Homo sapiens: one gene and its partners. The protein of the gene in region 1 interacts with the protein of each later gene in a pairwise test. Each region holds a gene or a part of one and is shown in the gene's direction. Other genes may lie near its edges.

Evidence for each region.
Region 2: the proteins of AXIN2 (region 1) and TXLNB interact in binary tests that used the Homo sapiens proteins (3 or more experiments, as listed by UniProt).
Region 3: the proteins of AXIN2 (region 1) and GSK3B interact in binary tests that used the Homo sapiens proteins (3 or more experiments, as listed by UniProt).
Region 4: the proteins of AXIN2 (region 1) and CWF19L2 interact in binary tests that used the Homo sapiens proteins (3 or more experiments, as listed by UniProt).
Region 5: the proteins of AXIN2 (region 1) and TSGA10 interact in binary tests that used the Homo sapiens proteins (3 or more experiments, as listed by UniProt).
Region 6: the proteins of AXIN2 (region 1) and GSK3A interact in binary tests that used the Homo sapiens proteins (3 or more experiments, as listed by UniProt).
Region 7: the proteins of AXIN2 (region 1) and AP1M1 interact in binary tests that used the Homo sapiens proteins (3 or more experiments, as listed by UniProt).

Annotation. Positions count from the first base shown.
Region 1 is NC_000017.11:65,530,649-65,534,148, reverse strand, and holds part of AXIN2 (axin-2), read left to right. Parts: intron 1-69; coding exon 70-237; intron 238-3,500. UniProt on the Homo sapiens protein: Inhibitor of the Wnt signaling pathway. Down-regulates beta-catenin. Probably facilitate the phosphorylation of beta-catenin and APC by GSK3B.
Region 2 is NC_000006.12:139,281,999-139,285,498, reverse strand, and holds part of TXLNB (beta-taxilin), read left to right. Parts: intron 1-2,332; exon of another isoform or gene 2,333-2,395; intron 2,396-3,500. UniProt on the Homo sapiens protein: Promotes motor nerve regeneration. May be involved in intracellular vesicle traffic.
Region 3 is NC_000003.12:120,087,948-120,091,447, reverse strand, and holds part of GSK3B (glycogen synthase kinase-3 beta), read left to right. Parts: intron 1-3,500. UniProt on the Homo sapiens protein: Constitutively active protein kinase that acts as a negative regulator in the hormonal control of glucose homeostasis, Wnt signaling and regulation of transcription factors and microtubules, by phosphorylating and inactivating glycogen synthase (GYS1 or GYS2), EIF2B, CTNNB1/beta-catenin, APC, AXIN1, DPYSL2/CRMP2, JUN, NFATC1/NFATC, MAPT/TAU and MACF1.
Region 4 is NC_000011.10:107,451,326-107,454,825, reverse strand, and holds part of CWF19L2 (CWF19-like protein 2), read left to right. Parts: intron 1-253; coding exon 254-376; intron 377-3,500.
Region 5 is NC_000002.12:98,997,943-99,001,442, reverse strand, and holds part of TSGA10 (testis-specific gene 10 protein), read left to right. Parts: intron 1-3,221; coding exon 3,222-3,246; 3' UTR 3,247-3,500. UniProt on the Homo sapiens protein: Plays a role in spermatogenesis. When overexpressed, prevents nuclear localization of HIF1A.
Region 6 is NC_000019.10:42,236,103-42,239,602, reverse strand, and holds part of GSK3A (glycogen synthase kinase-3 alpha), read left to right. Parts: intron 1-2,661; coding exon 2,662-2,745; intron 2,746-2,886; coding exon 2,887-2,997; intron 2,998-3,500. UniProt on the Homo sapiens protein: Constitutively active protein kinase that acts as a negative regulator in the hormonal control of glucose homeostasis, Wnt signaling and regulation of transcription factors and microtubules, by phosphorylating and inactivating glycogen synthase (GYS1 or GYS2), CTNNB1/beta-catenin, APC and AXIN1.
Region 7 is NC_000019.10:16,211,411-16,214,910, forward strand, and holds part of AP1M1 (AP-1 complex subunit mu-1), read left to right. Parts: intron 1-3,500. UniProt on the Homo sapiens protein: Subunit of clathrin-associated adaptor protein complex 1 that plays a role in protein sorting in the trans-Golgi network (TGN) and endosomes.

The DNA of each region.
Region 1 (3,500 bases):
GTGTGTGTTTGCTTTAGATGTGTGTCTGCTTTAAAATGCTAAACTTGTTCCATTCCATCTTATTTTCAGTCACAAAGAGCCAAAGAAACTGGCAGGTGTCCACGCGCTCCAGGCCAGTGAGTTGGTTGTCACTTACTTTTTCTGTGGGGAAGAAATTCCATACCGGAGGATGCTGAAGGCTCAGAGCTTGACCCTGGGCCACTTTAAAGAGCAGCTCAGCAAAAAGGGAAATTATAGGTAAGAGTCCTGTGGCTTTTTTCTGCTCTCAGTTTGTTTGCTCAGAACCAAGAGCCAGAGCCTGGAGCAGCTCCCCTGGCTGAGCAGACCTAGGTGGGGCAGGGTGGGAGGGGGCTCAGCAGGCGCTGGGGGAGGCTCCCTTCTCATTTCTTCTCTCCCCTCACCGCTAGCAGCAATAACGAAGCAGCAGCCGCAAGAGGGAGGCTGCGTGGAGGGTTCTCTGGGGGACCTGGCCAGGCTCTTTCCACCAGGTGAACCAGACTGAGGAGAGAAAAGGAGCAGCTGCTTGCACCGACAGGAGAGTGGGGCTCAGGCCACACTGCAGAGGCTTTACCTGCAATTGAGGGGCTTGTGGGCGAGTGGGGAGCAGGGAGCAAAAAGAGGGACAGGCACACTGATTAGGAGGGAGGGTCTGGAAGCGCCGCCCTACTGGCTTGAGTTTAGGAGAGACCCCCACATTGAAGGCTCCAAATAGTCAGGAACCATGCCTAGGAAAAGTCCCCCGTGTTTTTCTTACCCTGCCTTTCCACCTGAACAGCCTCCCTGGATTTTATGGGCCATTAGAAGCAGAGATGCGCCTTTGTCCATAACAAAGAAGGGGCTGGACCTGCGGGTGGGCACAGGGTGAATAGGGCAGTCTACTCCTCCTGTCCAGGCCTGGGCCCCGCTGCCTTCTCCCCTGCAGGGGCTTCAGGAAGGGAACTTCCTGGTCTCCTTACCTTGTCTGCAGAGTGGACGGAGGTGCCCTTGAGAAGGTCCATGCTGACTTTTTAGGGCCCTTGAGAGGGTTCAAGAGCTGAGGAGGATGAGGGCCAGCCCTAGGCCATTCCTTCTCTTGATCATTTCCCTCGTAAGGAGCAGGTGATGACTCTGCCTCAGTTCATCTGGAGTCCTCCCTTGCCCCTCTCCATGGCCTGCAGCCCAAGAGAATGTGTGGATTCTGCTCCAGTTCTGTCCCAGGTTTCCCAGGTTTAGGGCTCCAGGCTGGGACAAGGGTGAGACAGGGGCACCCTAGTTTAAGGAGGTGCTCACTCTGGGGTCTACACCCAAGACAGAGTTCCAACTCCTCAGCTGTGTGCTGTTGTCCCTGTGCCAGGACCACAGTCTATTCCCAGGTGTGAACCCGTTGCCGCCACCAGGGCCAGGGGTGTGAGTGGAAAACTCTGAATAGCACTTGGTAACCTGCCAGGTGGGCATGGGCTCCTGGACGGGGATGAGTCCACCTGCAGGGCTCTGAGACACCCTCCCCTCTAGAGCAGGCCTTGTATAGTTTTACCAGCCACCTTCATCTGGGAGTTAGTTTGGGCGGGGGCTCAAAGTGATTCTCTTTGGAGTGGGGAGGGGATGGAGGTTGGACTGAGCCCCTGGAGGTAACTGGCCAGCAGGGCGTGTTGCTGGGTCTGGATAGTCCCTTTTATACCTGGGCAGAGACAATTGTGAAAAGGTATCAAAGGGGTGGGGGAACAGGCCTGGCTGCTGCTGCTGCTGCTTTTATCTTGAAAAGACACAAGGTGAAACTAATGACACAAGTGTGTCCCTCTGGGGATTCATTTTGATCTTGGCTTTGTCTCGGCTGGACTTCGAGTGGAACTGCAGGTGACCTTGGAGAAGAGCCATGTGGCGCTGGCATAGGCTTGTGGGGAAAGTGCCTCCTTCAGCTGCTGTGGCCACATCTGGCTCTGATTTTTTTTTTTTCTCCCTGAGGCACAGTTAATAAGCCTGGCTTTGAAGCCCTGGCCTCCCCTTTAATGCACAAAGACTTGCACAAATGGTCAACTCTCCGATCCTCTCCAGTTCTTTCCTGAGTGGATCAGGCTGTGGGAAGGCCCTCCCAGCTGCCTTATCTCTGCAGGGCCTGAGCTAGACTCAGTGTCCTCCTGGGGTAGGACAGGGACACAGGGTGTCACGCCTCACCCTCCCAGCAGGGCTGGTGCTTCAACATCTCAATTTGTACAAATACATCCCCCCTTCAAAAAAATAAAAAAGACCCAGTGAGGTTGGGGCCGTGGAGCAGGGGTGGGAGGTGGGGGGGACCTGGGATGCGTTGAGTAATCTCAACATGGCAGGGGTTCAAAAAGCAAACAGTCCCTTCAGACGCGCCAGACGCTGTTGGTGCCAGATGTCAGAAGAAAGCAAAGTTTGCCACATGAAGCATGTTGCAGTGGAAAAGCCTGTTTCTTGGAGAAAATGAGGGCAGTGCAGTGTGTTTGAAGTCCTGGGGGTGGGGCTGAGAGAATGTGGCCTCTCTCCTCTCTGGAGGAGGTTGCAATTATGTAAAAGGTCGCTGCGTGTTTGCTCAGACATGCTGTGAAAGCCCAACTTGGTAAACCCTGGAGGGGTCGGAGCTGGGGCCAAAGGGGTCTGACGGAGGGTGGCGTTGGGATTTGAGCCTCTTATGTGGAGAAGTGACTTTTCCCCCCACTGTCCTGAGTCTCCTGTGCACAGAGCCCCTCCCCATTTTCTCACTGTCTCCTCTCACGCTCCCCCGAGAATTTTGACCCCTTGACATGACGTGTCTTCAGTGCTGCCTAGTCAGAGCCATGCCGTTGTTCACCCCACTGCATTAGCTGGGTCAGGAATGCTAAAAACAAAGAACCTTGACTAAACCCAGCTGTTCACTGTATTTAGCCTTATCTCCTACGAAAGTATTTGGCTTGCCTTTATTAAAGAGGGAAAAAATTGAGCTCTAACCAAGGGGAGTTAATTTTTTTTTTTTTAAAGGGAAAAGACAAAGCCCAACCATAACCCTGAGACACAATTAAATGCTTGAAAGGTTCTCCCATCCCCCCAGGGGACTGTGACCTTCCCTCTGTGAGTGGCCTTTATGGGCTGGAAATGACAGCTTGCAGGGGCAAGTTTAATCCCTCTGAGGGGTCTCCCTTGGCTGGGGACAGGGAAGGAAGAGGCCCTTGCTTAATTTCCTCGGAAGGGGTTTAGGGGTGGGCCTGGCCCAAGAGGACAGCAGTTGTTTCCGAATGTGGCACTCCTGAGAGGCCAGGCATTTGCATCTGTACAATTAAACAGCCTCAGAAGAAAGAACGCTGGGGAGGGATGAAAGGAGCCTTTAATCAACGGGCATAATAGAAGGGCCTTTGGTGTTTGACCCTGGAGGGATGGGATGGGAGAAGAGGCCTGGAAATGGGGAGAAGAGGGGAGGGCATCATGGGGCCAGTGCCGTCTGTTCGGCCCTGGGAAGCTGCGCTGGGCTGGCTTGCCTCCTGTGTGGCTGTGCCAGGGCCATCCAGGAGTGTTGCACTTGGGAC
Region 2 (3,500 bases), on another chromosome or scaffold:
TTGCTCTGTGTTACAGAGCAATTTTTTCTTCTCTGACAAAACATCTCAAATGTGTCCCTTTGCAAAGTTAGTCATTATTCAAGTTTCCGTAAGACAATATACAAAATCTCATTCCAGAGGTAAGCAACTTCAAGTGTTCCTAACCAGAAAAGTTATTTTTCAATCACCCTAAAACTTTTACATAAGAATTGGGGTGTGTGTGTGTGTGTGTGTGTGTGTGTGTGTGTGTGTGTGTGTGTGTTGAGGGGAAAGATATGAAGAAAATAGGGATAAAGTTAAAATAACCAATTTGGGTTTCTACTCTCTTCCATGAGTTATTTCATAATCTGCATTAACCTTACAATTACCAAATAGTCAGGATGATGTTTTTAAAAATTCCAACTCCCTAATTCTGCCGCTATTTACGATACCAAATTCCAACTGACTGTGTTTGACCAAAATCAATGCTTGTGGATTAGAGTACCTAGGTGTGTCCACTCTAATTGAGTATGTGTGGGCTCATGACCTTTCTGTGCCTTCCCACTCATCATCATTAGCATATTATTTTAAACACTGTACTATTTAACAGCTACATTATGCATGAAAACAACATTTTTAGGCTAACCTCAACTTGTAACCACCATTTTAAACTTTCAGTTGTTTGCAAGTAGCTTTGGCAGCCTTCTTAGCTACTTTTCAGTTAAATGGTACTGTGCTATCGTCTAGACTAATGGTTTTCCAACTTAACTGTTTATTAGAATCAATTGCAAAATTTGTGAAAAATGCTCCTCCTGAGCCCCCACACACAGATATTTGGAGTTTGTAGGCCTGGAGTGAAGCATGATCTAGTTTCTCAGTTCTTTGAACATGCTATACGCCATCTCCCACAAGGCCTGTGCACATTCTAGTTTCTTTGCCTAGAAATTTCTACCTATCCTCACGTCCTCAATGAGTACTTATTTATTTATTTTTATTTATTTACTTTTTTTCTTTGAGACAGAGTCTCACTCTGTTGCCAGGCTGGAGTGCAGTGGCGCGATTTCGGCTCACTACAACCTCCAGCTCCCTAGTTCAAGCGATTCTCCTGCCTCAGCCTCTCGAGTAGCTGGGATTACAGGCATGTGCCACCATGCCCAGCTAATTTTTGTATTTTTAGTAGAGACGGGGTTTCATTGTGTTGGCCAGGATGGTCTCGATCTCCTGACCTCATGATCCACCCGCCTCGGCCTCCCAAAGTGCTGGGATTACAGCCGTGAGCCACCGCACCCGGCCCACAATGAGTATTTATTAATGCCTAGTCTTTATGATGCACTGTGCTAGGTGCGCAAAGATAAATAAGTCATGGCCTTTAGTCAAGGATCTCTAGGTAGAGAGGAAGAAGAAGACACATAAGCTAATTGTCATATAGTGTAAGTGCAAGAGCAGGAACAGGAAAATTTTTAGGCGAGCATGGGAGATGTTCACCCTGGGTAATTTTGACACAGATTGTGGAAGCAATGGTTCTGATTCTTCAGAAAGTGTTTTCTCTGCTCTTTTGGAGAAAATATAAACATCTGGCTGTGGTCTCCTTTTATAACCTATTTGGACCTCTTAGAGAATTTTAATAAGTCATTCAACCCATATCTGAAGATATATTCTTAGATTTTGCTTATGTACTTGATCAAAGATGTCTTTAATCATTGTATTTATTAGATGCTATTTGCTTTATTGGCACATTTGAGATGCTAAAATGTTTTGACTCTCTACTACAACATTTTCCAAAGTGTGTCTACTTTGGGATGCTTGAGATTTCACAAAGTTAAACAGTTTCTTTACTGCCAGAATTCTCTGACCTTTACTGTATACACAATGAAGATCTAAAATAGTGATGGGCATAGTTTCCATCATTTCCAAAACTTATTGACTGATTGGATCTATGAGAGACATTTTTTTTTTTTTTTTTTGAGACGGAGTTTCGCTCTCATTGCCCAGGCTGGAGTGCAATGGTGCGATCTCGGCTCACCACAACCTCCGCCCTCCGGGTTCAATCGATTCTCCTGCCTCAGCCTCCCAAGTAGCTGGGATTACAGGCATGTGCCACCACTCCCGGCTAATTTTGTATTTTTAGTAGAGACAGGATTTCTCCATGTTGGTCAGGCTGGTCTTGAACTCCCGACCTCAGGTGATCCGCCTGCGTCGGTCTCCCAAAGTGCTGGGATTACAGGCATGAACCACCACGCCTGGCCAAGGCTTTTTTTTTTTTTTTTTTACAGAACACCTTGAATATTTGGGAAATGTCTCTACAACCTAAGCTCCCAGGACTTCTTTTTCCTTTTGAGGCTGCACTTTCTCCTACAATAAACGCAGTACTTACCGGAGCAGTTGGGGGAATATTTAAAAATCTCTCTCGTGGGTAAAGTCACTTTCCCCTTGGCATCTGAAATGAAAGAAATGAAAACAGATTTCCCATTATGCGGCACCATGCCAAGTTCACATCTAAAGTATCCCCTTTGTTCTCCTACTCGCATCCTCCAGGCTCAGAGGTATCTCTCATTTATCACTTCTTTGACAACATTATGTGGGCTGGGAGAAAAACAAAGCTCATTCACAGGGCTATTCTGAGCTCAGAATCCATCTAGTCAACCTACTAATTTTATAGACAGGGAAATTGAAGCCTAGGGAGTTTCAGAATCCACCAAAAAATGTTACTCATCTAGTTGATGTGATTGTGAGATTAGTCATAAAGCAAGGGATGGACTTTGTGTCACTGACATCGCAGGACCAAAGTGGTACAGAAGCAAGCATCATATTGGTTAAGGAGCATTTATTACACCTCAGTTAATGAATTTTGTCTTTCTAGTTACAAGTGAGCTTCAGTGGTACCTTCTGAGAGGCTCCTGACTAGGACATCAGTATTCTGAAATGTCTTCAGACATCCATTTACATAGTCTTCCTTTATTTTTTGAGACAAAGTCTCACTCTGTTGCCCAGGCTGGAGTACAGTGGTGCGATCTCAGCTCACTGCAACTTCCACCTCCCAGGTTCAAGCGATTCTACTGCCTCAGTCTCCCATGTAGCTAGGATTACAGCCACGTGCCACCATGCATGGCCAATTTTTATATTTTTAGTAGAGACGGGGTTTCACTGTGTTGGCCAGACTGGTCTCGAACTTGTGACCTCAAGTGATCTGCCCACCTCACCCTCCCAAAGTGCTGGGATTGCAGACGTGAGCCACCGCGCCCGGCCCCTAGTCTTCCTTTGAACGGTCCGGTCACTCTCCCAGATAGTCTGTTTCATCTGTTTTAGCTTGATTTCTAGTTTCTCTGAGAGAGTAATAAACTGCAGCTTTGATATTTTCTGAAGGAGATGGTATTTTCTGAAGGAGACTAAATTTTCTGAAGGAGATGATAAGAAGACCAGAGAAATTCAAGGGAAAGAGGAATAAGCAGAGACAAAGCTTGACAGGTAGATTCATAGAGAAGCTAGAACCTAGACCAGACCTTGACAGGGAGGAGAGTTTACAGAAGCAGATGGAAGGGGAG
Region 3 (3,500 bases), on another chromosome or scaffold:
ACTAACTAAGGATGGAGTAACTCTTGTAAAATATATAGATGAAAATGTTTAATTCCGATTACCATATAGGTCAATTTAGAATTTTAAAAGTTGGAGTTTAGTGTTAATTATGTGTTTTTGACAGCTTTGACTTTAAAAGCATTTAAAAGAAAGGGGAGTCTTTAAGCATTTGTTAGGATGCTAGCATTCTAAGGAACCCCTGTTGAAAACAGACATAAGAAATTGTAGTCCTTGCTCTCAAAAGCTTATCCTTTAGTTGTAGAGGGAGGCTATGGGGAAAAAAAAATTAAAACAATAGCGTGATGACTGCAAGATTGTAAAATACAAATTGAATCATTTGTTCAGAGTGGCAAAGAGTAAAGGGGTGAGACTGATGGTTGGGAGAGGAAAGACTTCCTGCGGACAAGGTGTATTAGGACTGATGTTAAAGGAGGTGGTAACTTGAACTGGTAGAAAAGCATGAAAGGTCTAGGTGGAAGGAGTGTACCAAGGAACAATGATGGTGAGTTTTGCATGAGAGACAATAATCAAGTTGACAAATCTGAATTAAAGGGGCCTAAATAAGAACATAAGAACAGATGGAATTTGAGAAATAAGAGAAAGTTAGCTGATGGAGGGCAGAGGGGTTCTGTACAAGTTTGATTGAGATTCAGAAGAGATCTGGATTTATTGTTGGTTGCTGAATAAGACGTAAGATGATTTTTGCAGTTGAATTAGTGAATTATAGTAGAGAGATGCTAGAGCCTTTTTAGGGAGCTAGTAGGGTATGTTGTGAATCATGAGGGAATAAAGTAAAATGTGAAAGTGGGGTGAAAGGAACAGGTTTGAGAGACAGTGTGAATGAAGAACTGGCAGAACTTCATACTGGACTGAAGTGGAATATTTGTGAAGGAGTCAAGAGTTAAAAATAAATTCTGATGTTACTGGCCTGGAAGACTTGACTGCTAAGTTATATTGTTAATTGTAATGGGAAAATTGAGAAAGTGCTGAGGTGAGAGGGTAGGTGAGTTCACTTTCTTAAAATTTAATATACAATAAGTTCCCTTGAAATTCAGACAGCAGTTAGTTACTGGCAATGATATTTGACTTCCTAGTCTATTAATTGCACAGTTTCTAATTTTTCTACACCTAAAGATGTTGGATTTATATTCGGGAGCAGTAAACTAAGGGCTTTTATTTAAATGCTTCTCATCAAAGTCCTAATTTTTTTTTTTTTTATATACAGCTTCAAAAGCCTCACACTTGAAACCTGGTTATAATAGTTTCATGATGGCTTATTTCAGATCAATGAAAATACTTTTGGGACTAAACTGTGACTGTAACATTTTAGATATGTAGCCATTAATCTTTGATATATGCTTAAAACTTGTTTTTTATAAATAATGATTATTACTATTATTTTAAATGCAAAATTTATCTAAGAATAAAGTATTGAGAGCCTTCACTTTGTGAAGACTCCAGAAGAAATTAAAAGTTGATTTTATAACAAGTATTTTTTGCCCTTTTTGTTGAGTTTAGGCATTAATCCCAAATTTAAATCAGTATATTTGAAATACTACTTTTTACTTGCTATAGTGAAACCAATGTTTCATTTTTGTTCACTTCCAAGTTTACATGTAATTAAATAAATGTTTATAAAGTTTTTCTTTAGAATCACATGATATTTTACTCCATAGGGAAAGTAAGGGACTGTTTGTGGCACTTTTGGTTAAAATATTAGTAATCCTTTTGGTATATACAATTGGAGAAAATTTAGCTAGTTGTTTAGGTTTAATACTTAAATATAAGATTTAGAAATATGAAAATAAGTCTGTATCACTTAAGTTGTTTCCTCATATAAAACTTTTTTAGATCAAAATTTCTATTAGCAAAGAGAGAATAATAGTAGCTGCATATTATTCTGCAGTATTACGTCGTATGGTGATTAAAGCCAAAGAGTAGGTAGCAACTTAGAGTTTCCGTATTCCCCTGGGAAGTTTAATCTCTTTATGACATCTAAAAATTAGGTTATTAGAGTTTAGTCCATTTCTTGATAATCCTGTGTTAATGTGGAAAAGAGTTCATGTGTGAGACTGAAAACCAGAACTTTATTTTCAGTCATTTCCCAACCCGACTTCCCCAGAGTTGTTAAAACGTTTAAGATATTTAAGAATTGCATGCTTTCTTGTTGCATGCACCTGTAGAATGCTAATTGTGAAGTGACAGTAAGTCACAGGCAAAAGGAAAAACTTCAAGGGAACCCAGTGATTCACAAATCACCTTATGGCTGATTGGGAACTGCATTTAGAAAATGAGGTGACATCTTCTCATTTCACTGGCAAAGTTCAGCTGAAAATCAGTACTTGCACGCTTTACTGTGTAGCCCTTATATTAGAATTGAGTTGCAGGTGTGAGATAATATTTTGGAGAAACAGCAAGGCTGGGAAAGTCAGAGATTTTATTCCAGCAGCAGAGTCTAAAGAGTGGGAGAGCTCTATTTGTGTGTGCACTTTATGCATAGAGAAGGCTGTGAAACATGCATATGTTGACCCTATTGTCACAGTTCCATACTTTTAAATAAGACCCATGAAGTTGAGACAGGGTTGGAGATGACAGACAGGATGTGAGATTGTGGTGCTTCTTGTGATGCTCCACCCTATAATGGAGAATGGAGGGGCAGAACGCTTGTGTGGGTGAGACAAGAGTGTGTGTTGGTACTAACAGGACCAACCGGGTTCCCCGGATATTGTTCTTCTAAGAACATAATCACCATAAGTAAATTAATTTGTTGGAATGTTTATCATTTTCTAGCTGATTTTTTGTGTGTGTGTGTGGGGTGGTGGTGGTGGAAGGGGAGTTTTCCCCGATTTCAAGAATAAAAGCATTTTCATTGTTCAGAAGAAGAGCATTTTCATTAAAGCGGAGGTTGCACTCTTGGCATTTTATCTTGAGTTATACAAATCATCCTTGGTTATACAAATCAAATTGCTTTTGAAATTTGTTGAGTGTAATGTATAAATGTATATTTATATAAAAACCTATGTGAATAGAACAGCAAGGAAAAACTGAGTAGAGTTAAAGAAGTTTGTTTTCCCTGAGATTTTCTGCCTTTAAATTTATATAAAAAAGGAATATTCCATTTTACGTTATTGAGTTTTCTATTTTTTTAAATGAGCTAATACTCAGTACATAATGGACATTTTTAGTAAATTATTCCAATATACTTGTGTCTGTAATGCATTTGATGTGGTATAAGATTTAGAAACACAATTTAGTTCGGCTGGCACGGTGGCTCACGCCTGTAATCCCAGCACTTTGGGAGGCCGAGGCGGGTGGATCACGAGGTCAGGAGATCAAGACCATCCTGGCCAACGTGGGGAAACCCCGTCTCTACTAAAAATACAAAAATTAGCGGGGGCGTGGTGGTGTGCGTCTGTAGTCCCAGCTACTCAGGAGGCTGAGGCAGGAGAATCGTTTGAACCCATGAGGCGGAGATTGCAGTGAGCTGAGATCGTGCCACT
Region 4 (3,500 bases), on another chromosome or scaffold:
AAATAAAGCCAAAATTTTCCCAGTATTTTTCTGGTAAGAAGTCTCAGTTATATGATTTATTGATAGTGCATATATTATAGAAGGTGTGTTAAGATTTCCTGAAAGATTTTATTTATTTAGACATATTCTTGGTCTTATTTCATCAGAGATTGAAAGTTTTTTAGAATGTGGTTTATTTTTTTTCTCTCAGAATACATCCTTTTAAATTAAGATGAAATTAAATTATTTTCTTGCCTGTTCAAAATGATTGTAGGAACACTCTGTGAAGAAAAAGAAGAAAAAAGACAAGCATTCAAAAAAAGCAAAGAAAGAAAAGAAAAAAAAGAGCAAGAAACAGAAATATGAAAAAAACAATGAGTCATCTGATAGCTCATCAGTAAGTATGTACTAAAATTAATCAAAGCAGCTATTTGAGAACATTTTATTTGAATGTGTAACTTATGGGAAGTTAAAATACAAGAAAACGTAAAAAATATATTACTAGTTATGATATGAAAATATCTGGGATACATCTACTTAGAGATGTCCAGAAAATATTGGAAATGTTGATCTTGAATTTCAGAGAAAGGCTAAGAGGATAGGGATATGATTTGGGAATTATTGCTAAGCACAGCACTGGATCTTGCCCAAGGCCTGCTGTAACAATTACCTGGCTACAGCTGGTGTTCACTCAAGGCCCTGGGGCTCTGCAATCAGCAGGTGATGAAGCCAGCCAGGCCTGCGTCTTTCCCTTCAGGGTGGCAAGTTCCCCCAGGCCTGAGGGTGGGTCCAGAGGTGCCATCAGGGACCCAGGTACTGGCGTCAAAAACCTTAGACTTGTACCTGGTGTTCTATTGAACTGTGGCTGAGCTGGCATTCAACCTATGAATGGCAGTCCTTCCCACTCTTCCCTTTTCACAGGCAGAGGGGCCTCACCCTGTAGCCACCACCATAGACCCACAGGTAGTACTGGCAGGCTACCACTGATGTTCCCTTAAGGCCCAAGAACTCTTCAGTCAGCTGCCCGGCCTGGGACTCACCCTTCAGGGCAGTGGGCACCCCCTGGGCCAGGGCAGATCCAGAAATGCTATCCAAGAGCCAAGGCGTGGGGCTGGAGACCCCAAGATCCCTCTTGGTGTTCTACCACCCTGTGGCTGAGCTGGTACCTAAGGCGCAAGACAGAGCCCCCTTTACTTTTCTCAAGCAGAAGGAGGCTCTCCCCATAGCCACCACAGCTGGGAATGTGCTGAGTCTCACCTGAATCCAGCAAGTCTCAGATACACAGTGAAGGCCACAGTGTAGTACCCGATTATTGGTGCTGGTTATTCAGGGCCTAAGGGCTCTTTAGTGGTTACCAGCTATGGCTGAGCTGGTATTCAAGATGCAAGATGGAGTCCTGTATTTACTCTTCTCTCTCCTCTCCTCAAGCAGAAGGACAGGGTCTCTTTTGGAGCTGCACATTGTGCAGCCTTGGGTTGGGGGAGAGGTGGTGTAAGCACTCCCTTAGCTGCACCAGTTGCCCCCCAACCACCTGTCCATTGGCTCTGAGGCAAGTTTAGCACTAGGAGTCACCAAGGAATTCCACATCCTTGCTAGTACTTGGTATTGTCAGTCTTAGTAATTTTTAGCTATTCTACTGTGTAATGTCTCGTGTGATATTTCTCTGAAGAACAAGGATGTAGAGCATCATTTTAAGTCCCCATAGGGCATTCCATGTCTTTGTGAAATCTGATTTATTAAATATTTTCTTTTTTGTTTTTCATCATTTTTTCTTAGTGCTTCTGGTATCCTAATTTTTGCGCACCTCAAGATTGTGATTTCTCCTATGTTTATGTTATTATTAAATTTTTTTGTTTTTTGTTTGTTTTTAGAGATGGAGCCTCACTATGTTGCACAGACTGGAGTGCAGTGGCACCATCATGGCTCATTGCAGCCTCAAACTCCTGGGCTCAAGCAATCCTGCTGCCTTAGCAGCCCAATTAGCTATGACTACAGATGTAGTACAGAAAAGTTGTTTTTGTAGACATGGAGTCTTACTATATTGTCGAGGCTGGTCTCGAACTCCTGGGCTCTAGTGATCTCCTGCCTCAGCCTTCCAAAGTGCTGGGATTACGGGTGTGAGCCACCATGCTTGGCCTCCTATTTTTTTTCCCTAGAAGTTTTATAGCTTTGGCTTTTTTGCTTATTTATAATCCATTAATAATTTTTATTTATGTTGTGTAGTGTCAGTTTATTTTTTTCCCACGTGGATTTCCAGTTTTTCTAGCATCATTTGTTGAAAAGGCTGAATTTTCCCTATTGGAAGGAATTTAGGGAGATAGATATGTTAAAATATTCTTTCAATCCATTATGCACTTGGTACATCTCTCTATCCATTTATGTCTTTGATTTTTCTCACAATGTTCTGAAATTTTTAGTGTAGAGATCTTACATGTCGTTTGTTATTTTTTTTCCATTTTGTTTTCTGGAAGTGCTATCGTGAGTGGAATTTTAAATTAAATGTGTTTACAGCTAGTATGTAATTATAGAAGTGACTTGAAACATTAGGATCAGAAAAAAAAGAAAAAAGTGAAAAAAAACCTGCTTTTGATATATTCACCTTGCCTCTTATCACCATGTTAAAATTACTAATACTAGTGTTAGTAGCTTTTTTAGTAGATTTCTTAGGATTTCTAGGTAAATGGTATGTCATGTGTGAAAAAGACTTTTACTTTTTTCTTTTCAGTCTCTGTGCCTGTTTTATTTGTTAATTGTTGTTGCCTTATTTCAGTAGCTAGGACTTAAAAATAGTGTTGAATGGAAGTGGTGAGAGTGGACATGATTGCCTTTTTCCTTATCTTAGGTGCAAAGCATTCAGGTTTTTACATTTAAGCATGATGTCTGCTGTGGGACTTTCATGTATGCCTTTTCAGATTAAGGAAATGACATTTTATTTCTAGTTTTCTGAGAGTTTGTATCTTGAATGAGTATTGAATTTGGTAAGTGCTTTTTTTGCATCTATAAGTGTTAAAATTTGCCAGTGAAACGGTTTGGTCCTGGAGTTTCTTTGTGGAATGGGTTTAACGACAGAGTTAATTCCTTTAATAGTTGTGTTAAATACTTTCTGTTTATTCTTGAGTTAGTTTTAGTAATTTCGGTTTTTCTGGGAATTTATTCCATAGAAATTGTCAAATTTATTGTCATAAAGTTATTTGTAATATTTCCTTTGTTCTTTTAATGTTTACGGAATCCATAGTGATACCCCTCTTTCATCCCTGATTTTGGTAATTTCTATTTTCTGTTTGTTTCCTCTGTCAGTCTGTCTTGAGGCTTATCAGTTTTATTAATCTTTCTTTATTGCCTTTTAGTTTCCTTGAATTTTCTCTGGTTGTGTGTTTTCTATTTCATTGATTTAAACTATATTTATTCTTTGCGAATACTTTGTGTTTAATTTGCTCTTCTTTTTCTAACTTTCTAAGATGAATGTATCGCCACTGATTTGAAATCTTTTCTAACGTGTATTTATTTTATAAAATTTTCTC
Region 5 (3,500 bases), on another chromosome or scaffold:
TTGATGTTGATGCTATTCCTTTCTGTTTGTTAGTTTTCCTTCTAACAGTCAGGACCCTCAGCTGCAGGTCTGTTGGAGTTTGCTGGAGGTCCACTCCAGATCCTGTTTGCCTCGGTATCACCAGCGGAGGCTGCAGAACAGCAAATATTGCTGCCTGATCCTTCCTCTGGAAGCTTCATCTCAGAGGGGCACCTGGCTGTATGAGGTGTCAGTTTGCCCCTACTGGGAGGTGTCCCTGAGTTAGGCTACTAGGGGGTCAGGGACTCACTTGAGGAGGCAGTCTGTCCGTTCTCAGATCTCAAACTCCATGCTGGGAGAACCACTGCTCTCTTCAAAGCTGTCAGACAGGGACGTTTAAGTCTGCAGAAGTTTCTGCTGCCTTTTGTTCAGCTATGCCCTGTCCCCAGAGGTGAAGTCTACAGAGATAGGCAGACCTCATTGAGCTGTGGTGGGCTCCACCCGGTTCGAGCTTCCAGGCTGCCTTGTTTACCAAATCAAGCCTCAGCAATGGTGGATGCCCCTCTCCCAGCCTTGCTGCCACCTCGCAGTTCGATCTCGGACTGCTGTGCTAGCAGTAAGCAGGGTCCATGGGTGTGGGACCCACCGAGCCATGCATGGGATATAATCTCCTGGTGTGCTGTTTGCAAAGACCACTGGAAAAGCACAGTAGTAGAGTGGGAGTGTCCCGAGCACTAGGAAAGGGAATTCCCCGACCCCTTGCGCTTCCCAGGTGAGGCGATGCCCTGCCCTGCTTTGGCTCACACTCTGTGGGCTGCACCCACTGTCCAACAAGTCCCAGTGAGATGAACCTGGTACCTCACTTGGAAATGCAGAAATCACCCATCTTCTGTGTCGCTTACGCTGGGAGCTGTGGACTGCAGCTCTTCCTATTCGACCATCTTGGAACGATCCCCTTTTTTTTTTTTTTTTTTAAGTCAGAGTTTCACTCTTGTCCCCCAGACTGGAGTGCAATGGCAGGATCTCAGCTCCCTGCAACCTCCACCTCCCAGGTTCAAGTGATTCTCCTGCCTCAGCCTCCCTGAGTAGGTGAGATTACAGGTGTCCATCACTACATCCAGCTCATTTTTTTTTTTTTTCAGTAGAGACGGGGTTTGCCATGTTGGGCAGGGTGGTCTCGAACTCCTGACCTCAGGTGATCCACCTGCCTTGGCCTCCCAAGGTGCTGGGATTACAGGCATGAGCCACCACACCTGGCCTAGTTTTTGTATTTTTAGTAGAGACAGGGTTTCACCATGTTGACCAGGCTGGTCTCAAACTCCTGACCTCAGGTAATCCACTCGCCTCAGCCTCCCAAAGTGCTAGGATTACAGGCATGAGCCACCACACCCTGCCATTTTGAAAATCTTTTTAAAAAATAGGTGAATTACACTGGGCGTGGTTGCTCACACGTGTAATCCTAGCACTTTGGGAGACTGAGGCAGACAGATCGCTTGAGCCTAGGAGTTACAGACCAGCCTGGGCAATGGTGAAACCCCATCTCTACAAAAAATACACACACAAAAAAAATTAGCCAGATATGGTGGCACGTGCCTGTATTTCTAGCTACTTGGTAGGCTGAGGTGAGAGGATCAACTGAGCCTGGAAGGTCATGGCTTCAGTAAGCCATAATCATGCCACTGCATTCTAGCCTGGGCAACAGAATGAGACCCTGTCTCAAAAATAGAATAGAACAGTATAAATAAAATAGATGAGTTAAAATCTTTTACATTATTGATATGACTGTTATGTCACATCAATAGTTATAATTACTTTCTGTACTATGTGATATTTGTTGTATTTCTTCATTTGATCAGTCTTCTTTGCTTTTTAACAAATTTCTTTTGGCTTTTATGAAAGTTTATTTTATTTTAGTTGTTACCTTTCTATTAATATGATTAACAATGCCCTTAATCACCTTTTTTCTCACTTAATCTTTTACTCTCAGTTTCAAATGGTGTCCTTTGACTGACACCTATTATCTAGACAACAGACATCACATTGAATTTACTTTCCTCTAACCACTGCTCTGTTTCCTGCCTCTCTAGTTTTGCCTTTCCCAGGTTGTCATGTAAATGGAATCATACAGTATGCAGCCTCTAGTGGTTGACTTTCACCCAGCATAATATATTTCAGATTTATCCAGGTTGTTGCATGTATTAGTAGTTGTCACATATTCCTTTTAACTGCTGAGTAGTATTCCATAGTATAGATGTACCACAGGTACTTTTTTTTAATGATTATAGTCTTGGCCATACACAGTGGCTCCTGACTATAATCCCAGAACTTTAGGAGGCTGAGGTGGGAGGATCATTTGAGGCCAGGAGTTTGAGACCAGCCTGGCCAACGTGGCAAAACCCCATCTCTACTAAAAATACAAACATTAGCTGGGCGTGGTGGCGCATGTCTGTAATCCCAGCTACTCAGGCGGCTGAGGCATGAGATTTGCTTGAACCTGGGGGCAGAGGTTGCAGTAAGCTGAGATCATGTCACTGCACTTCAGCCTGGGTGACAGAGTGAGACTCTGTCTCCAAAAAATAGTAATTAAAAAATAAAAATAGAATGATTATAGTCTCACAAGTAGTTGCAAAAATACCACAGACAGTCCCACATATCCTTACCCCAGCTTCTATAATGGAGTATCTTACAAACTGGGATATTGACATTAGCACAGTGTGATTAACTAGTCTAAAGGCCTTATTCAGATTTCACTAGTTTTTAGATGCACTCATTTGTTTGTATGTGTATATATATATTTTTTACAATCCACACACAGCACAACTATGATCAAGATGTGAAGTTGTTCCATCAGCACCAAAGAATTCACTCCCTCATTATGCCTATTTATAGTTGTAGCCCTGACCTTCTTCATCTCCCTGTCTCCTGGGAAACACTACTTTCTTCGCCATCTCTATAATTCTGTCGTTTTGAGATAACCTTTTCAGATTAACTTTTCTCATTCAGCATAATGCCCGTGAGATCCATCCAAGCTGCTGTAAGTATCAATAGTTCATTCCTATTTATTGTTGAATAGTATTCCATGGTATGAATGTACCAGTTTGTGAAAACTGAGTGAAAAAATATATTGTTTTTTGTTTTCCTTCATAGAAATGAAGAAAAATCTTACGTTTTGCTGAAGTGATACACTTACTAGAATAAATTTGTTACACATGTTGAAAAAGTTGAATTAAAAATATTAATCAGCATGATTTTTTCTCTTATAGGAATCTTTGCTACAGAGATTTCTGACACCTGAAATGATTCTTCACATCCCTGAGAAAGGTCAAAGTTACAAACTGATTTTTTTTTTTTTGCTACATGAGTGCATTTATCTTTTAAATGCTTGGCAATGTTAAATGTATTTATTAACTTTGTGTCTCTGAATCTCTGTTCTAATGTGCCATGTTGCAGTGATCTGAGATGACTTATAAAAACAAAAATGTATATGGCTCTTTCTATCCATGCAGTGATAGTGAGTGTAAAATCTGCTTACTTCACTATTG
Region 6 (3,500 bases), on another chromosome or scaffold:
CAGTCAAGGCTGGAATCTGATTCCCAAACCCTCTACCTTAACCATTTGGTTACACTTCTTCCCAGGAGAGAAAGGGACCTGGCAGGGCTAGCGCGGGTGGTTCTGAAGGTCGCGCTCTTCCCAGGTGTTTGGCCAGCGCAGAATGGAATGGAGGTGCCCTGTGAGCTAGGAGAGGCTCAGGGAACTAGAAGGAGATGGAGGAAGTGGAAGTTGAGGAATAATTGGTGTTTAAGGGCCTGGCATTTGGAGCTTAGACTAGTCTGGATGTAGGAGAACTGAGCCTAGACTGGAAAGGAACCAGACCAGGGCCTCGGTCTTGGCAGGGAGGGCCCTTGGGCAGGAGGAGCTCCAGGGTGTCAGAATTTGATTGGAGTTGAGTTCCAGAAGTAAGAGGGATGTAGGGGCAGGGAGTTCCTAGGCCTCACTGAGGAATAGAGAATGGGGAAGAATGCTGAGACCGCATTCTGGGAAAAGTCCAATGCCTGGAGTCTGGGACTCAGGATCCTAGATAGAGTTCGAGGACCCAGATGCTTCCACGGGACCAGAGTGAGCTGGATGGCCACTACCTGTCTGTTGTTGCTTGTGCCAGGTAGGGGGGCAAGCCTCATGTGCCCATGCCTGATTTTTTTTTTTTGAGATGGAGTCTTACTCTGTCACCCAGGCTGGAGTGCAGTGGCACGATCTTGGCCCGCTACAACCTCTGCCTCCCAGGTTCAAGCGATTCTTGTGCCTCAACCACCTGAGTAGCTGGGATTGCAGGCATGGGCCACTATGCCTGGCTAATTTTTTTTTTTTGTATTTTTAGTAGAGACAGGGTTTTGCCATGTTGGCCAGGCTGGTCTCGAACTCCTGACCTCAAGTAATCCGCCCCCACCTCGACCTCCCAAAGTGCTGGTATTACAGGCATGAGCCAGCATACCTAGCCCTGATTTTTCAAGACAAACTGAAAACTGGATTTAGATGTGAAATCTTTTTTTTTTTTTTTTTTTTTTTTTTGAGACGGAGTCTCATGCTGTCACCCAGGCTGGAGTGTGGTGGCGTGATCTCGGGTCACTGCAACCTCCGCCTGCCGGGTTCAAGCGATTCTTCTGCCTCAGCCTCCCTAGTAGCTGGGACTACAGGCGTGTGCCACCACTCTCGGCTAATTTTTTGTATTTCTAGTAGGGACGGGGTTTCACCGAGTTAGCCAGGATGGTCTCTATTTTTTTTTTTTTTTTTTTAAGACAGAATCTCGTTCTGTCACTAAGGCTGGAGTGCAGTGGTGTGATGTCGGCTCACTGCAACCTCTGCCTCCTGGGTTCAAGCGCTGCAACCTCTGCCTCCTGGGTTCAAGCAATTCTTGTACCTCATCCACCTGAGTAGTTGGAATCACAGGCGTGCGCCACCATGCCCAGCTAATTTTTTTGTATTTTTAGTAGAGATGGGGTTTTGCCACGTTGGCCAGGCTGGTCTCGAACTCCTGGCCTCAAGTGATTTCCCTGCCTTGGCCTCCCAAAGTGCTGGGATTACAGGGGTGAGCCACCATGCCCAGCTGTTTTTTATTTTATTTTTATTTTAAGGCTGGGTATGGTAGCTCATGCCTGTAATCCTTGAACTTGGAGAGCCCGAGGCAGGAGGATTGCCTGAGACTAGGAGTTCAAAACCAACCTGGCCAACATAGCCAGGTTCTTTTAAAAATAATAATAATAATAAATTTTATCTTATTTATTTATTTATTATTATTATTTTTTGAGACAGAGTCTGTCGCCCAGGCTGGAGTGCAGTGGCGCGATCTCAGCTCACTGCAAGCTCCGCCTCCTGGGTTCACGCCATTCTCCTGCCTCAGCCTCCCGAGTAGCTGGGACTACAGGTGCCTGCCACCATGCTTGGCTAATTTTTTTTGTATTTTTAGTAGAGACAGGGTTTCACCGTGTTAACCAGGATGGTCTCAATCTCCTGACTTCGTGATCCACCCACCTCAGCCTCCCAAAGTGCTGGGATTACAGGCGTGAGCCACCACGCCTGGCCCTGGCCTATCCTTTTTAAAACTTTATTTTGGAGAAAAAAATCAGAAGGTGCCATTTGGCTTTTACATGTCAGCAATAAGTTGAAAAAAAATTTTTTTTTAAGTGGGGTGGCTGGGCGCGGTGCCTCACGCCTGTAATCCCAGCACTTTGGGAGGCTGAGGCCTGTGGATCATGAGGTCAGGGAGGCTGAGGCAGGTGGATCACAAGGTCAGGAGATCGAGACCATCCTGGCTAACGTGGTGAAACCCCATCTCTACTAAAAATACAAAAATTAGCTGGGCGTGGTGGTGCATGCCTGTAATCCCAGCTACTTGGAAGGCTGAGGCAGGAGAATTGCTTGACCCAGGGAGGCAGAGGTTGCAGTGAGCCGATATTGAGCCACTGCATGCCAGCCTGGCAACAGAGCAAGACTCTGTCTCAAAAAAAAAAAAAAATGGGGTGAAGAAAACACATCTGTGGCCTGGGTTTAACCTGTGGGCTTCCAGCTCCTGTGGGAGGGGAATAGTCTGGAGACAAGGAATTGGGGGATACTCCAGGGGACCTTGGAGCTGGGACACAGGGAGTAGCTGCCTGGCTGTTGTTGGGAGTGAGTGTGAGTAGGGAGGAGCAGCCGAGAGAGTTGGTTGTATTCTGAGACTCTCCCTTTGCCCTCAAGAACCGAGAGCTGCAGATCATGCGTAAGCTGGACCACTGCAATATTGTGAGGCTGAGATACTTTTTCTACTCCAGTGGCGAGAAGGTGAGATCTCGAGGTGGTGGTGGTGGGTTGCTCCAGCCATTTTCCTGCCTGCCTGCCTTTCCCCCACTGCTCCCTGCATACCTTCCTTCCCCCTCCTCACTCTTCTCACAGTGCCTCACACCTCTCCTTTGCTCCCTGCAGAAAGACGAGCTTTACCTAAATCTGGTGCTGGAATATGTGCCCGAGACAGTGTACCGGGTGGCCCGCCACTTCACCAAGGCCAAGTTGACCATCCCTATCCTCTATGTCAAGGTAGGCCAGCAGGTGGGCTGCTGGGACCCAGGCCCACAAAGCCAGGGGCTCTGGAGCCTCCTGCCTTTTATGGGATCCCTCATCCGCCAAGTTTATGTTGGTTTTTGGAGGCCCCATGTCCCCTGCTGTTGTTCCCATAACCCCCCGAGATGGAGCTCGCCTAACACAGGGGAGGGCCAAGGCAGGCAAGGCCTGACTGAATCAGGAAGGCAGCCTGACACCTGGGGTTGCAGAAGCTGCCAGGTAGTTGCTCAGGTCCATACAGGGAGTCCAGTGGCACCAGAGATGTTGGAGTTAGCTCAGGATAAGGGGGTGGTGGGGACCAGGACTGCACAGAGACAGCTGCTGAGGCCAGAGTTCGGGCCTTTAGAGCCTTGGCTGGGGGTAGGTGGGAAGGAGTTAGGGCTGGAGGAAGGTTAGCATCCACAGAGCCAGGAATGCATCTCCGTCCATCATCTGTGCAGGCTCATTCCCCAGTGCCTGGCATCGTGCCCTGGGTGTTA
Region 7 (3,500 bases), on another chromosome or scaffold:
TAGGAGTGGTGAGAGAGGGCATCTTTGTCTTGTGCCAGTTTTCAGGGGGAACGCTTTCAGCTTTTGCCCATTCAGTATGATGTTGGCTATGGATTTGTCATAGATGGCTCTTATTATTTTAGGTATGTTCCTTCAAAACCTAGTTAGTTGGCTGGGCATGGTAGCTCCCGCTCTACTAAAAATAGGAAAATTAGCCGGGCGTGGTGATGCGCGCCTGTAATCCCAGCTACTCGGGTGGCTGAGGTGGGAGGATCACTTGAGCCCCAGAGGTAGAGGTTGCAGTGAGTCCAGATTGTGCCACCGCACTCCAGCCTGGGCGACAGAGCAAGACCCTGTTTCAAAAAAAAACAAAAAACAAAACCAAAAAACTCCAGTTTGTTGAGAGTTTTTAACATGAAGAGATGTTGAATTTTATCAAAAGCCTTTTCTGCACCTATTGAGATGATCATGTAGTTTCTGTCTTTAGTTCTATTTATGTGATGAATCATGTTTATTGATTTGCATGTATTGAACCAACCTTGCATCCCAGGGATAAAAGCCTTCTTGATTGTGGCGGATTAGCTTTTTGATGTACTGCTGGATTCAGTTTACTAGTATTTTGTTGAGGATTTTTGCATCAATGTTCATCAAGGATATTGGCCTGAAGTTTTCTTTTTTTGTTGTATCTCTGCCAGGTTTTGGTATCAGGATGATGCTGGCCTCATAGAATGAGTAGGGGAGGAGTCCCTCCTCCTCCGTTTTTTTGGAATCATTTCAGTAGGAATGGTACCAGCTCTTCTTTGTACGTCTGATAGAATTCAGCTGTGAGTCCGTCTGGTCCAGGTTTTTTTTGGTTGTTAGGCTATTTATTACTGATGCAATTTTGGAGCTCATTATTGGTCTGTTCAGGGATTCAGTTTCTCCCTGGTTCCATCTTGGAAGGGTATATGTGTCCGGGAGATTATCCATTTCTTCTAGATTTTCTAGTTAGTGTGCATAGAAGTGTTAATAATAGTCTCTAAGGGTTATTTGTAGTTCTGTGGGGTCAATGGTAATATCCCCTTTGTCATTTCTAATTGTGTTTATTTGGGTTTTCTCTCTTTTCTTAATAGTCTAGCTAGCAGCCTATCTATCTTATTCATTCTTTTAAAACACCAGCTCCTGGCTTACTTGATGTTTTGAATGGTGTTTTTGTGTCTCAGTCTTCTAGAGTTCAGCTGTGACTTTGGTTATTTCTTGTCTTCTGCTAGCTTTGGAGTTGGAGGCTTTTGCTTCGTGAGTTCTTTTAGTTGTGATGTTAGGTTGTTAATTTGAGATCTTTCTAACTTTTTGATGTGGGCATGTAGTGCTGTAAATTTCTCTTAACACTGCCCTAGCCGTGTCCCAGAGATTCTGGTCTGTTGTATCTTTGTTCTTATTTGTTTCAAATAATTTCTTGACTTCTGCCTTAATTTCATTATTTACCCAAAAGTAATTTGGGAGCAGGTTGTTTAATTTCCATGTAATTGTATGGGTTTGAGTGATTTTCTTAGTTTTGAATTCTATTTTTATTGATTTGTGGTCTGAGAGAGTGGCTGGTATGCTTTTGGTTCTTTTGCATCTGCTGAGGATTATTTTATGTCCAATTGTGTGGTGGTTTTTAGAGTATGTACCATGTACAGATGAGATATATTCTCTCGTTTTTGGGTGGAGAGTTCTGTAGATATCTATCAGGTCCAGTTGATCCAGTGCTGAGTTAAGGTCCTGGATATCTTTGATAATTTTCTGCCCCAGTGATCTGTCTAATACTGTCAGTGGGGTGTTGAAATCTCCCACTGTTATTGTGTGGGAGTCTAAGTCTCTTTGTAGGTCTCTAAGAACTTGCTTTATGAATCTGAGTGCTGCTGTTGGCTGCATATTTATTTAGGTTAGTTAGATCTTGTTGAATTGAATACCTTACCATTATGCAATGCACTTCTTTGTCTTTTTTTGATCTTTGTTGGCTTAAAGTCTGTTTTGTCTGAAATTAAGATTGCAACTCTGCTTTTGTCTGTTTTCTATTTGCTTGGTAGATTTTTCTCCATTTCTTCATTTTGAGTCTGTGGGTGTTATTGCATCTGAGATGGGTCTTTTTTTTTTCTTTTGAGACAGAGTCTTGCTGTGTTGCCCAGGCTGGAGTGCAGTGGCGCAATCTCGGCTCACTGCAACCTCTGTCCCCCAGGTTCAAGCAATTCTCCTGCCTCAGCCTCCCAAATAGTTGGGATTACAGGCACGCGCCACCACGCCTGGCGGTTTTCTATTTTTAGTAGAGACGAGGTTTCACCATGTTGGCCAGGCTGGTCTCGAACTCCTGACCTCAAGTGATCCACTCGCCTCGGCCTCCCAAAGTGCTGGGATATTACAGGCATGAGCCACTGCACCCAGCCAAGAATGGTGTCTTAAAGGGAGCATATCATTTGGTCTTATTTCTTTATCCAGCTCTTGCCACTCTATGCCTTTTAATTGGGGCATTTAGCCCATTTACATTCAAGGTTAGTATTGATATGCATGTATTTGATCCTGTCATTGTGTTGTTAGCTGTTTATTATGCTGACTTGTTTGTGTGGTTGCTTTATAGTGTTACTTGTCTGTGTACTTAAATGTGTTTTTGTAGTGGCTAGTAATGGCCTTTTCTTTCCTTTTTCTTTTTTTTTTTTTTGAGACAAAGTCTCACTGGGTAGCCCAGGCTGGAGTGCCATGGCGTGATCTTGGCTCACTGCAACCTCTGCCTCCCAGGTTCAAGTGATTCTCCTGCCTCAGCCTCCCGAGTAGCTGGGACTACAGGCGTATGCCACCATGCCCAGCTAATTTTTTTTTGGTATTTTTAGTAGAGACAGAGTTTCACCATGTTAGCCAGGATGGTCTCGATCTCCTGACCTGACCTCGTGATCCACCTGCCTTGGCCTCCCAAAGTGCTGGGATTACAGGCGTGAGCCACTGCACCCGGCCTTTTTTTTTTTTTGAGATGGAGTCTTGCCCTGTCACCCAGGCTGGAGTGCAATGGCATGATCTCTGCTCACTGCAACCTCTGCCTCCCTGGCTCAAGCAATTCTCCTGCCTTAGCCTCCCGAGTAGCTGGGATTACAGGTACCCACCACCATGACCGGCTAATTTTTGTATTTTTAGTAGATATGGAGTTACACCATGTTGGCCAGACTGGTGTCGAACTCCACACCTCAGGTGATTCGCCTGCCTCAGCCTCCCAAAGTGCTGGGATTACAGGCATGAGCCACCACACCCGGCCTTCTTTTCATATTTAGTACTTCTTTCAGGAGCTCTTGTACAGCAGGTCTGCTGGTAAACAAATTCCCTCAGCATTTGCTTGTCTGAAAGGATCTTTTTTATTCTTCTTTTTTTTTGAGACAGGGTCTCATTCTGTTGCTCAGGCTGGAGTGCAGTGGCATGATCATGGCTCACTGCAACCTCTACCTCCCTGGCACAAGCTATTCTCTGGCCTCAGCCTACCAATTGGCTGGGACTATAGGCAGGTACCACCACACCCG